3 separate regions of the Homo sapiens genome follow, and all the other regions are linked to region 3. Evidence: fine-mapped expression QTL. A gene starts in region 3. Each other region holds a variant in brackets. All regions are shown on one strand. Distances are from middle to middle. Region 1 has its middle 5.4 kb from the start of KATNBL1. Region 2 overlaps SLC12A6 (solute carrier family 12 member 6). Region 3 holds the start of SLC12A6 (solute carrier family 12 member 6).

What was found. PIP is the estimated chance that this variant, and not a neighbour inherited with it, causes the effect.
Region 1: its variant is the best candidate, but not a certain one, in a credible set for the expression of SLC12A6 in pancreas (GTEx, PIP 0.86).
Region 2: its variant is the best candidate, but not a certain one, in a credible set for the expression of SLC12A6 in fibroblasts (GTEx, PIP 0.55).

Annotation. Positions count from the first base shown.
Region 1 is chr15:34,213,335-34,217,578 of GRCh38, reverse strand. No RefSeq gene overlaps it. Among named protein-coding and RNA genes, the nearest start is that of KATNBL1, 5.4 kb to the right of the region's middle. RefSeq lists an enhancer at 2,940-3,535. The variant C/G (reference allele first, on the strand shown) is at 1,948.
Region 2 is chr15:34,301,911-34,306,154 of GRCh38, reverse strand. The region is part of intron 2 of SLC12A6 (solute carrier family 12 member 6); the gene reads left to right. Among named protein-coding and RNA genes, the nearest start is that of SLC12A6, 34 kb to the left of the region's middle. The variant C/A (reference allele first, on the strand shown) is at 1,972.
Region 3 is chr15:34,335,225-34,339,468 of GRCh38, reverse strand. It overlaps SLC12A6 (solute carrier family 12 member 6), which reads left to right and starts at 1,688. Exons shown (of 26, transcript NM_001365088.1): 1 at 1,688-2,137; 2 at 2,717-3,059. The coding sequence starts at 2,789. RefSeq lists a silencer at 1,274-1,833 and enhancers at 3,123-3,242, 3,444-3,513, 3,574-3,623.

The DNA of each region.
Region 1 (4,244 bases), 120 kb after region 3:
AGTTTGTTTTGTTTCGTCTTTCTGAGATGGAGTTTTGCTCTTGTTGCCCAGGCTGGAGTGCAATGGCACCATCTTGACTCACTGCAACCTCCGCCTCCCAGGTTCAAGCCATTCTCCTGCCTCAGCCTCCTGAGTAGCTGGGATTACAGGCATTGCCACATGCCTGGCTAATTTTTTGTATTTTTAGTAGAGACAAGGTTTCACCATGTTAGCCAGGCTGGTCTTGAACTCCTGACCTCAGGTGATCCACCCACCTCGGCCTCCCAAAGTGCTGGGATTACAGGTGTGAGCCACCACACCTGGCCATAACCTGAGTCTTTTAAAGGAAGATTGTTATGGACTGATTGTTTGTGTCCTCCCAGAAATCATATGGGATGATCCTAATCCTCTATGGGATGGTATTTAGAGATAGAGCCTTTGGGAAGTAATTAGAGTTAAATGAGGTAATGAGGGTGGATGTCTCATGATAGCATTGCCCTTATAAGACACCCAAGAGCTCTCTGCCAAGGCCAGGGAGCATTACTGCCTGAGCTCTGCCTCCCATGAGATCAAGGAGGGGGCATTAGATTCTTTAGGAGCTCAAACCCTATTATGAACTGTGCATGTGAGGGATCTAGGTTGTGTATTCCTTATGTCTTAATGCCTGATGATCTGAGATGAAACAGTTTCATCCTGAAACCACCCTCCCTGCCCAGCTCACATTTGTGGAAAAATTGTCTTCCATAAAATTGGTCCTTGGTGCCAAAAATGTTCAGGACCACTGGTTTAAAGCACCCAGTATTTTGTTATGGCAACCCAAGCAGAATAATACAAGGATGAAATGAAATTCAGAAGAGTTGGAGAACAATAGGTATCTTTTAATGTTTGAAAGATAAATAAAGCTATTCCTTAAAACATGTACATAAATGTAGAGTTGTTTAATTTGCTCATTATGTAAATAGGAATGTACTAAACACTGTCTATTGACTTGCTTTTTTTACTTAATCTATTTTGGATATCTTCCATGTCTATCATGCAGATCTACCTTATTCTTTTTCAAGGCTGCAGAATGTAGATGTGAGATAATTTAATTAGTCCCAAATTGATAGACATTCAGCTTGTTCCCATTTTTCGCTATTACAAAAAAATGTTGCTGTGAACATCGTTGGGCACTTGTCAACACATTTCTGTAGGACAGTGATAAAATTAGGATCTCTTCCCACAGTTTTATACAGTTAAAATGTTGATGGGTTCAAATAATAGGCTCTCTAAAATGTACTGATTTACAGTTCTAAGGGTTTATTGATTAAATCATTGCTAGAGTCTTTCAGTGAATTGAATAATTTCCTCCCCACCCCCAAATTCGTATCCACCCAGAGTCTCACATCAGATCTTTGCAATGAAGGTCTTGGCTGATACATTGGTTAAGATGAGGTCATACTGGATTACAGTGAGACCTAAATCTGATGACTATAGCATCCTTATATGAAGAGGTCACACAGACACATAGGGAAGAAGGCCATGTGATGAATGGAGACAGATTGGAATGATGCAGCTACAAGCCGAGGAAGCTAGGAAGAGGAGGCAAAGGATTATTCCCTAGACCTTCAGAGGGCGCATGGTCCTGTTCCGGAGGCTGTTTGGACTTCTAGCCTCTGGAACTGTGAGATAATATACTTCTGTTGGTTTAAGCTATTCAGTTTGTGGTACTTTGTCACAGCGACCCTAAGAAACAAATACGTCTCTTTCTAAAAGAGAGTCCATTCAGATGTATTAAGGGTTAGCTTAAGGAGAAAATGATAACAATAAAATAATAACAGGTAAAATAATATTGCCATAGTTACAGAATTAAATCCTAAACTTTAAAACATTTACATGAAAAGTCGTTTTTTTTGTTTTTTTCCTGAGACAGAGTCTCGCTCTGTCGCCCAGGCTGCAGTGCAGCGGCACGATCTGAGCTCACTGCAA[C/G]CTCCGCCTCCCGGGTTCACGCCATTCTCCTGCCTCAGCCTCCCAAGTAGCTGGGACTACAGGCGTCCACCACCACGCCCAGCTAATTTTTTGTATTTTCAGTAGAGACGGGGTTTCACCGTGTTAGCCAGGATGGTCTTGATCTCCTGACCTCGTGATCCGCCCGCCTCGGCCTCCCAAAGTGCTGGGATTACAGGCGTGAGCCACCACGCTCGGCCCACAAAAAGTTTTACTTAATTTCCTAATTGCTATGATTGGTTTCTTTAATAAAATGGTTTTAAAAAGTAACTTTAATTTAAAAGCAACACATTTATTATATAAATGAGAAATACAAATAGGCAAAAAAGATAACCAACAAATCCTATCATGCCAAAGAAAAAACCTTTCATGAGCATTTTGATTTAGATGTTTTCAGACTTTAAAAATTAATATTTAGACTTATTTAATACTGTATACTGTTTTATAAGATGCTATTTCATGAAGAGCGGTATTTTTACTTTTTAGAAAAGGCACAGGAAAAAGAATGAGTACATTTTTATTTCGGTTTTTTAAAATGTTTCTTATAGCTCTGCCAGATTTTCAGGCCTGTTGCTTTCATCCAGCCCTGATCATGAGGCACCATGCCTAATCCAGCTTCCACAGTCCTCTCCTCCCAGCCTACTGCTGCAGCCATACCCTATTCTCCAGGACCTGGACTAGTCCTGACACTCTTCTTAGATAAGAATAATTCTTAATAGTATTTGTGTTCTCCCATTTAAAGGATTAAGCGTTCAGATAAGTTTAGGAAACACTGCATGTATCTTTCTTTAAAAATTGACAACAAATGTTAGGTTTTTAAAGACCGAGAAGTGCTACAGTAAAGAAATATTTGTTTACTTCAGCAGTTACCAAACTTCTGTGGCCAAGGAAACCACTTTCTTCTTTTTCTCTTCTTTTTTGAACCTATCAACATCTCTTAGAACTGATGTCCTGAAGAACACAGAGCTAAGTTGGGGAAGTAACTCAAGCCAGTTTAGGTTCAGGCTCAATTGTGTTACTGCAAGAGCGGTTCTGCCTTTGTGTCTGGCTCCAAGAAGTGTCTTAGTAATCTTTCTACTGCTCCTGTCTCTTGAGGCTAGGGACCTGCTTTGCTCTTTTAAGTCCTCTTCCCAAGGACTTTCTGCTTCTGATGATTGTTGCCCTGCTAACTGCTAGCGCATTTTATTTCCTGCTTGCCTGCTCGCCAGGAACTCCTCTGTACTTCACCTGTTATGGGGTCCCAGTTGTACTGAACATCTCCCCTCCCCCCACCACCTCCACCAGCAACTGCATACATAATTGGATTTGTTTTGCATATGATAGGACTTTTCAGGTACCCTGTTCTGGTTACCAGGCCATCAGCATCACAGTGAGTCTGTTCCGTGCCTCCTGACCCCACCCCCAACATTGACACTTCACCCTCTCCTGCACCCTGACCCCCAGGTAGTCTAATTCCAGGACTTCCCTTTTCCAAGGCAGCAGTCAACCATATTGTATTCTTCTCTATCTTGGAAAAATCACTAAACTCAGTTTTTCAGAGAGAGACACAATCACTGCTCTAGGCATTGTTGTATATGTTTTATATAGGTTATCCCACTTCCCAACAGCCCCTGAGAGGAGAGTGTTATCCCCATTGCACATTAAGGTAAAAACCGGTGTAGAAACGGCCCAAAGGCAGCAATCTAGGTTTTAAATAGAGATGAGCCTTGCTCCAAGGCTAGTCTAACATGCTGCCCCCACCACGTTCCACCTGGTGACAGTATAGTCTAATTGCAGGAAATGTACTTGCAGGAGGAGAGAGATGGTTTCTTGAGATTCGGATTTGAAAGTCTATAAATACCAAATATTATCATAGTCATAAATGTTTTTGGGTCACCTGATCTCAGTTGTAGATTTACAATAGAGGGCTGTAGATGTAGCAGAAACAAGCTATCTTAAAAATAGGATCCCCCATCACTCAACACCTCCCTACCACCCACCCTTCACCCCGCAAAAAACACTACCAGGGGTTTTGTTTTGTTTTTTGGGTTTGTTTTTGTTTTTGTTTTTTTTGCTTACTGCTTCTGCCATTACTTCCTTCCACAGCCTGCAAAGGAAGGTAGGGAAGGGAGGAGCAGAAAAAAGGGATTGACTTCTCACTTTGACTGCTAAAGTCAACTGCCTAGAATTTTCCAAAGGTGCTGAGGCTGAGCAGTGTGGAATGGGTGAGCTGTTGCTGTCTTTTAGGTCCCTTCAGGCATTGTTCTCTGTCAGAATCGGCATTGGTCTCAATGAGAATG
Region 2 (4,244 bases), 33 kb after region 3:
AAACAACCCATCTGGGGAAGCCAGGCAACCTGAAAGAGAAAAACCACTTAGAATAAACAATATATTGAGTTAGCTAAATAGAAATGCTGGAGGAGGCTGGGCACGGTGGCTCACGCCTGTAATCCCAGCACTTTGGTAGGCCGAGGCGGGCGGATCACGAGGTCAGGAGATCGAGACCATCCTGGCTAACATGGGGAAACCCCATCTCTACTAAAAAAAGATACAAAAAATTAGCCGGGCGCGGTGGTGGGCGCCTGTAGTCCCAGTTACTCAGGAGGTTGAAGCAGGAGAATCACTTGAACCCAGGAGGCAGAGGTTGCAGTGAGCCGAGATCGCGCCACTCCCTTTAGCCTGGGTGACAGAGCGAGACTCCATCTTTAAAAAAAAAAAAAAAATGCTGGAGGAGAGAGAAACTTGAACATGAAAATAATAATGGGCCACATTTAAGACTTTATGGAACAAAAAATGTGATTTTTCCACCTAAATAATTATTATCACCTGACTCCATTTATCCTCACACACTTATTTTTTTTAAAACTATCTCTGCTAGAGTGTAAGCACCAGGAGAACAGGAACTTTTTTGTCTTGTATTCACTGCTAATCTGTTGTCAACTCTAATACCTAGAACACTGTCTTACACATAGTAGGCGCCCGAAACATAATTATTGAATAAAGGAATGAATGAGTATGAACAATTATTGACCTGGAAGATCAAGTAAAATAAATATTTCAAAGCATGGAGCCAAAAAAAAAATACAAAAAAAAAAAACTTTTAAAAAAGAGACCTATTGGATCGATTCAGGACACCTAACATGGCTAATACAAGTTCCAGAAGAAGAAAAAGGAACAAATGGAGAAGGAATAATTAAACAACATAAAATTATTTCCTGAGCTAAAGACTTCAGTGTGCAGAATGAAGTTCTGGGGGAGATCAGTGATGAAAAACACATACATAGGGATATCCTTGTAAAATTTTTGAGCTCCAAGGATTCACCTTGGAGGCTTCCAGATAGAACAGGTTGCACCTATCAAGTAACAGACTGGAATCAGAATTCTAATTCACAACACTGGAAACTAGGAGATGGTAGAAGAGTATTTACAGATTGGGGATTTCACAATCCCAAATCCCTATTTCCCTTGAAGATATTTCTCCCCTATGAGGGGAAACATGTTACAACTATACAAAAATTTCAAGGATATAATACCCACTTAACTCCTCTGAGAAAATTCAAGAAGGGGTTTTAGCCAAATAACAAGTGACCTAGAACAGAGATCACATGATGAAAGGGATAGAAATAATGGAAAATGACAGACTCTTTGGGAATGTATTATGTAAATGCTAAGTAAGGTTTTTAACCAAAGGATGCATAGTTCAGAGAACAATAATATTTACAATGTGATAAGTAAGTCAGGGCAGAACCTCAAAACTGTGGGAACAAAAGGAAGTAACAGCTTTCCAATTAAGGTGAGGAGAGGAAAAAGCACCAATATGTACATGAAAAGATGCTCAACATCATTAGTTATTAAAGAAATACACATCAAAACCAAAATGAGGTACAGTTTTTTCACACTCACTGGGATGGCTATAAACAAAAAGACAGATATCAAGTGTTGGAAAGGATGTGAAGTATTGAAACTCTCATCTGCTACTAGTGACAATGTAAAATAGTACAACTACTTTGGAAAACAATTTGACAGTTTCTTAAAAAGTTAAACATAGAATTACCATATGTCCCAGTAATTAAGTGTATTTCCACACAAAAACTTGTACAGGAATGTTTATAGCAGCATTATAAATAATAGCTAATAAAGAAGTAACAGCCCAAATGTCCTCCAGCTGACAAATGAATAGATAAAATGTGATATAGCCATATAATGGAATATTATTTGGCAATAAAAACAAAGTACTGATTCCTGCTATAACATGTGTGAAGCTTGAAAATGCAAGTTAAGGAATCTAGTTGCAAAAAA[C/A]CCCAAACACATACTGTATGATTCCATTCGTAGGAAATGTCCAGAATAGGTAAATTTATAGAGGCAGAAGTTAGATTAATGGTCGTTTAGTCTGGATAGGGTTGGGGAGAGTGAGATGGGGATTAGCCTGCTGATGGGTAGAGGGTTTCTTTTAGTGGGGAGACAAAAATGTAAAATTAGATTGTGGTGACAGCTACACAACAGTGTGACTATATTAAGAAACACTGAACACTTTGAGTGAATTATATGGTGTTGTCTTAGTATGTTTCATGCTGCTATAACAATACCACAGACTGGGTAATTTATAATGAATTGAAATTTATTGACTCGTGGTTCTGGAGGCTGGAAAGTCCAAGACCAAGGTGCCAGCATCTGCTGAGGGCCTTCTTGCTGCATCTTCCCATGGCAGAGGGCAGAGAGGGTAAGAGGGAGTGAGAGAGAAGGGGACCAAACTCCCTATTTTGTTACAAACTCTCTTGATAATGACATTAATCCATTGTTGAGGGTGGCTTAATTACCTAATGGCCTAATTACCTCTAATTAGTCCCCCACCTCCCAGTGATGTTGCATTGGGGATTAAGTTTCCAACAGATGCTTTTGGGAGGATATATTCAAACCATGGCAGGTCTGTAGTTTATGTTTCAAAATGTATTTTTTTTAAAGAGGAACTAGTGTTGATAATACACAGCAGCTTGCATGAATCTGCAAGGCATTAGGCTCAATGAAAAAAAGGCAGTCTCAAAAGTTTATATATGATTCCATTTATATTTTCTAAATTATTGAAGATCATGACACATTTACTATTCAAAGTATACACACTAAAAACAATGTTTTTAAAAAATTCCAGAATACAGTATATATAATAATAGTTTCTAGTTTAATGTCTGGGTTTAAAACTTTAGGAAATGTTATGTTCAGCCTACATTAAGCAGTTAACCTTTGACTGTAACATGAAATCAATATAGGCTCTTAAAATATTGGAAATGTTCACAGTAGTCTCTTAGTCCCCCTAATTCCCCTTTTAACTCCTTAGTTCCTAATTTGTTGTTTAGGCCAATTTTCTCCCCTTCTTGTTAAGAAGATAGTCTCTTATGGTCATGTTTATTTTTCCAAAACCATCTTTAAAATGAAAATGTGAAATATGTTTCCACAGTGCATGAAAAATAATTTGGATCATCCACAAGACCAAAGAATGACATAATCTTTTTTTTTTTTTTTTTTTTTTTGAGACAGGGTCTCCCTTCTCCCGTCTGTCACCCAGGCTGAAGTGCAGTGTCATGATTATGGCTCATTGCAGCCTCAGCCTCCTGGGCTCAAGCAATCCTCTCACCTCAGCCTCCCAAGTAGCTGGGACTATAGACATCCACTACTACGCCAGGCTAATTTTTAATTTTTTTGTAGAGACAAATCTCCCTGTGTTGCCCAGGCTGGTCTTGAACTCCTAGGCCCAAGCAATCATCCCACCTCCACCTCCGGAAGTGCCAAGATTATAGGCATGAGCCACTGTGTCACCCAGGCTGGAGTGCAGTGGCACAATCTCAGCTTACTGCAACCTCCGCCTCCTGGGTTCAAGCAATTCTTTTACCTCAGCCTCCCGAGTAGCTGGGATTACAGGCTCCCGCCACCACACCTGGCTAATTTTTGTATTTTTGTAGAAATGGGGTTTCACCATGTTGGACAGGCTGGTCTCAAACTCCTGACCTCAAGTGATCCACCCGCCTCGGCCTCCCAAAGTGTCAGGATTGCAGGCATGAGCCACCACACCTGGCTAGCCCATAATCTTCTTTATACATAATTTTCTTCAGTAATATTTGCAACAGCCTCAAGATCCATCCTCCTTTGTTATTTCTTAGTAAGTTTTTTTTCTTCTTTTTTAACTGTGTAGGTACAGTCCTCTTGTATCATTTATACTTTTCTTGACTGACCAGTTTGTGGATTTGGCCCAATAAACTCTCTTTATATTATACTTTGGCCTTTATTAAATCTACTGTCTGGTATTACTCTCACCATCTTCTCAGTGTTATAGGCTGAGAAGAAAATTACAACCATAGGTTGTATAAGTTATAGGCTGTGAATTAGAAGTATAACTATCTTCATCACTGCTGAGTTCTTCAACTTCTAGTGGATTTATCTCCACATATTTGGAAGAATTTCAACACAACTTAATCTAATGTATTCAGAACACAGTTTACCTCATTTGCATTTTCTTTATACAAATCTGAGCTCAAACAAAAAGTGGTCTTAACATTTCTCTTGCTTGGGACACTCCACTA
Region 3 (4,244 bases):
GTAAATGCAGATACACTGGTAGGAAATTGGGTTTCATAAAAATTCTGTGTTTCTTTATAAAGGAAAAGTCTGAAGTTTGAATGAACGGCAGGCCTGCCTGAGGAAAAAATTGATCCTGCTGAGGATGGATGAAAGCTGTGGGCCTGAATCAAGAAACCCAGACTTTATAAAGAGTCAAACTTTAGGAGGTTTACACTTTACATTAGGATTTCTCATTTTGTTACCAGGATCTTTTTAACCTTTTTGATCCTTTAATCCTTGAAAGGATTTGGACTTTGTGTGTCATTTGATAAAAGAGAACTTCCGGGAATACAGTTCCCATTGCTAGGAGTGCTGCTTAAACATAACCACTTGTGAGGAGCCAAGACCCCAGGCAAAACCGGGGGCCAGTTTCTGGGCCCAGGTGATTGTTAAATTTAGAGGTCTTGATCACAGCTATAGGAAATAGCTTTTCAAACAAAACATTGGTGAGTCAGAATTTATCGAACACCACCATTTATACATTAAATAAACACTAAGAAAAAATATTCTAGCGACAAATGTAGTGGTGAAAACATGGAATGGATTTGAGAAAATACATCAACGTCTTCTCCAGGTATAAAAAAACGTATTATTTAGTGGAACTTTCAGTCTGACTAGAAAGTGGACATAGCATTTATTAAAAGGACAAGAACAACAACAAAAAATTAAAGTAGGACAAATGTGTTTAAGGTACTTTATAGTTTTATTTTTATTTATTTATTTCTTTGAGACGGAGTTTTGCTCTTGTCCCCCCAGGCTGGAATGCAATGGTGCGTTCTCGGCTCACTGCAACCTCCGCCTCCCAAGCTCAAGCGATTCTCCTGCCTCAGTCTAAGGAATAGCTGGGATTACAGGCACACGCCACCACGCCCGGCTAATTTTTGAATTTTTGGTAGAGACGGGGTTTCGCTATGCTGGCCAGGCTGGTCTGGAACTCCTGAGCTCAGGTGATCGATCACGCCCGCCTCAGCCTCCCAAAGTGCTAGGATTACAGTCGTGAACCACCGCGCCAGGCCTACTTTATAGTTTTAATTTTTTTTTTTTACATAAAAGTGGTTTATTTGTATGTAGACCTCTACATAAAAATTACAATGAGGGTTATTCCCAGGTATAGGAGCGGTGTTTCTGGTTAAAGAAATCATGAATGATGTTTTCAGAGACACTCATGAAAGAGAAATGGCTCCCCGGGTTCTGAGGGTGAGGAGCAGCGCCCGCCCTCTAGGATGCTTCCAGAGTGAGTGTGCAGCACAGCCGGACCGAGGAAAAGGATTATTCCCCTCTTCACGCGGGTCGGGCCGTGCCCTGGACTACAGCTCCCGTCGTGCCCCTGGCCACTCGTATTCGGCCCCGCCCCGCCTGCCGTGTCCCGCGGCGAGCGCAGGCGCGCTGCACTCGGTCACCGCGGGCTGCGGCGGCTGGGCGGGGCTTTCGGGCGCCCGCGGGACGGTTCCGCCCTCTCACTGCACCCCCGGGCTTCTCTTCGCAAGGTTCACCTCGAATGAGGAACAAGCGGGGAGGGAAGGGAAGGGCTGCGGCGGCGCGGGCGCACCCCGTCGGGCCCGGGGCTGGGGGAGGCCAGGTCACGTAACTGCTGCTCTGGCGTCGGGCCGGGGAGGGGGCGCCAGCCCCGGCAGCGCGAACCCTGCGCGCGCCGCGGCTCTGAAACAGTTACCGGCTAGTAAACAACAGCTGCGCGCGCACCCGCATCAGCTGGCGCCGGGATACTGCACCTGCGACCTCCTTCTCCCTCACCCTGCTGCCCAGTCAGGCCAGCCTGCGTGGCCGTCTCCTCCTCTACTGGGACCCTGAGGAAGAACGACGAGGGGGTGACCTGCGCCGGGGCGGGGGTAGGGGAGAACGCGCCTCCGGCAAAGGGGGTGGCTCGTCCTGTCACACGCAGGAGAAACCTAGCGAGCGGACCGTGGCTCAGTGGACTAGCTACGACTTGCCACGACTCTGAGCTGCAGTCCGAGGTGTCTTGATCCGCTAACCTCCTCCCAGACCCCGAGGACCTTTCTGCTAGGAGAAGAGCGGGCGCGCCACCCCCACCGACCTCTCGGAGACAGGAATCCGCTCTGCCCCTGCATCCTCCTCTGCTCACCCTTCTCTCAGTAGTGTGGGTTATTTTTCCCGTTATGCATGTGCACCTTTCCCACCAGACCCAAGTGGATTGTCGACATCAAAAACACCGGGTGGCTTTGCATACACCTCCCCCCAGCCAGACCTGTGGGGTATTCACCTGATACACAACAGGTGGCCGGGTGTACACCTTTTAGCAATCTGATCCACGCTATAGTCGCCTGATAAAGGTTTGCCTGCACGCACTTCGCCCAACTAGAACCGTGGGACACTCACCAGATAAAGGACTACCTCGACAGGAAACTGGGGGCTGAGGGGAGGGAGGCTTCATCTGCTGCCCTGAGACCATGGCACTGAGCCTTCAGCCCCGGACCAGAGGGGTTAGCTAGGTAGCTCTTCATTCTGAAGGAAAGAAGTCACACAAGATTGGCATTGTTTTGTCTTTTTGTTTTTTGTTTTTTTCTCTCTTAAAAAATATATTCACCTATTGGTGATGCACTTTCTAGGACAGTCGGCTTGAATTCTGAGTAGAAGTATTCTTAGTTGGGGCTTTTTGTGTGGTGTGAATCAAGGTTATTGAAATGTGTTATTTTTCAAGTTATCTTTTGTATTGCAGTCAAAAGTAGCTAGCGTAAGAGGAAGATTTTGCGAGGTTCCCCCCACTTTTTTTGTTCTTAAAAAGAACAAAATGCATCCTCCAGAAACCACCACCAAGATGGCTTCAGTTCGGTTCATGGTGACACCGACAAAGATCGATGACATTCCAGGTTTGTCAGACACCAGTCCGGACCTCAGCTCTCGATCTAGTTCCCGAGTAAGATTTAGCTCCCGGGAAAGCGTGCCTGAAACAAGCCGGAGTGAGCCTATGAGTGAGATGTCTGGGGCCACCACTTCGCTGGCAACTGTTGCACTGGATCCACCCAGTGACCGGACTTCTCACCCCCAGGATGTCATCGAGGGTAAGTAGAAACACAGACCGCAGCATACTTTCATTACTGGGTTCTTTATCCAAGATGACCATCTATGGATCTGGAAGATCATAATCATATAATTATGATTATAATAGTCATCAGGAACCAAGGCATCTCTTTGTGAGATGCTTAGGAACTCTTTGGAATAATAGCATAGTGGCTCTTTGCAGTAGTAATTTGGTATGTGGGAAGGTGTATGACAAGAAGGAAGGCAAATGTATATTTTAACTTCCTCATTTTTGTCTTCTTAGAAATGAAATGGGTATTTTGGTTAAAAGTGAATATCAAAGAATGTAATCGTTTTCAGCACACAGAATCCTAAATTTTAAAATTTAGTGAGTTGGATATGTGTTCTGTAGCCATCATTGGCTATTTCAGTCTGCTTTAAGACTGGTTTCATGGAGTAGTTACTGGTCGTATCTTAGCAGCTTTCCTCCAAGACTTCGAATGTGTATTGCAAAATTCTTTTTTGAAATCTGTATTTTTATGGAGACCTTGACACAAGTAGCTAAGCCCACTCAGGGTGATGGTGGGTAGACCTAATGTGCTATTCTGTCAAATGGAAGACTTCTGAAAAGGCTTTTAGGGCCTGATTCCCATGTAATTTATTCTCTCTGAGCTTTAGATGGAAAGTCTGATGATTAGAGTTAGCAGGTAGCACACAAGCCACTCCTGGCTCATGTTGACTGCTACAGACCTTTAGCTTCCTAAACCAGTTTGTGTGTGTCAGCTGGCTTGGTTTTATTTGAGGTACTGGGAAGAGGTGATGGAAGAGAGAGAAGAGAGAAAATGGGGAGATCATAACATTTTTTGGACTCTGAAATTTAAAAGTTTGAGACCTGTACTGCTTTATATATTTAGTTTTATGCTGTGTTGTAACTAATGTAATCTTTTAATGATAAAAATTTCCCTTAAAGACTCTTAAAATAATATTCCACCCAAGTTTGAAAACCATAGCCTCACCCACTGACTTGTGAAAGCAAGGCTTACTCACCATTTTCCGGTGTCAGGAAATATTGTTCCTTTTAACCTAAAGGGTTCAGGAAACCAGAATGATTTTAGTTCCCTAATTCTGTTTGTGTTTTTAGTATCTGGAGACAAGGTAGATTTGGTAAAGTTTACAGTCCTAGAATTCACTCATCCTTGACTAATCATTTTTTCTTTTATGGAGAC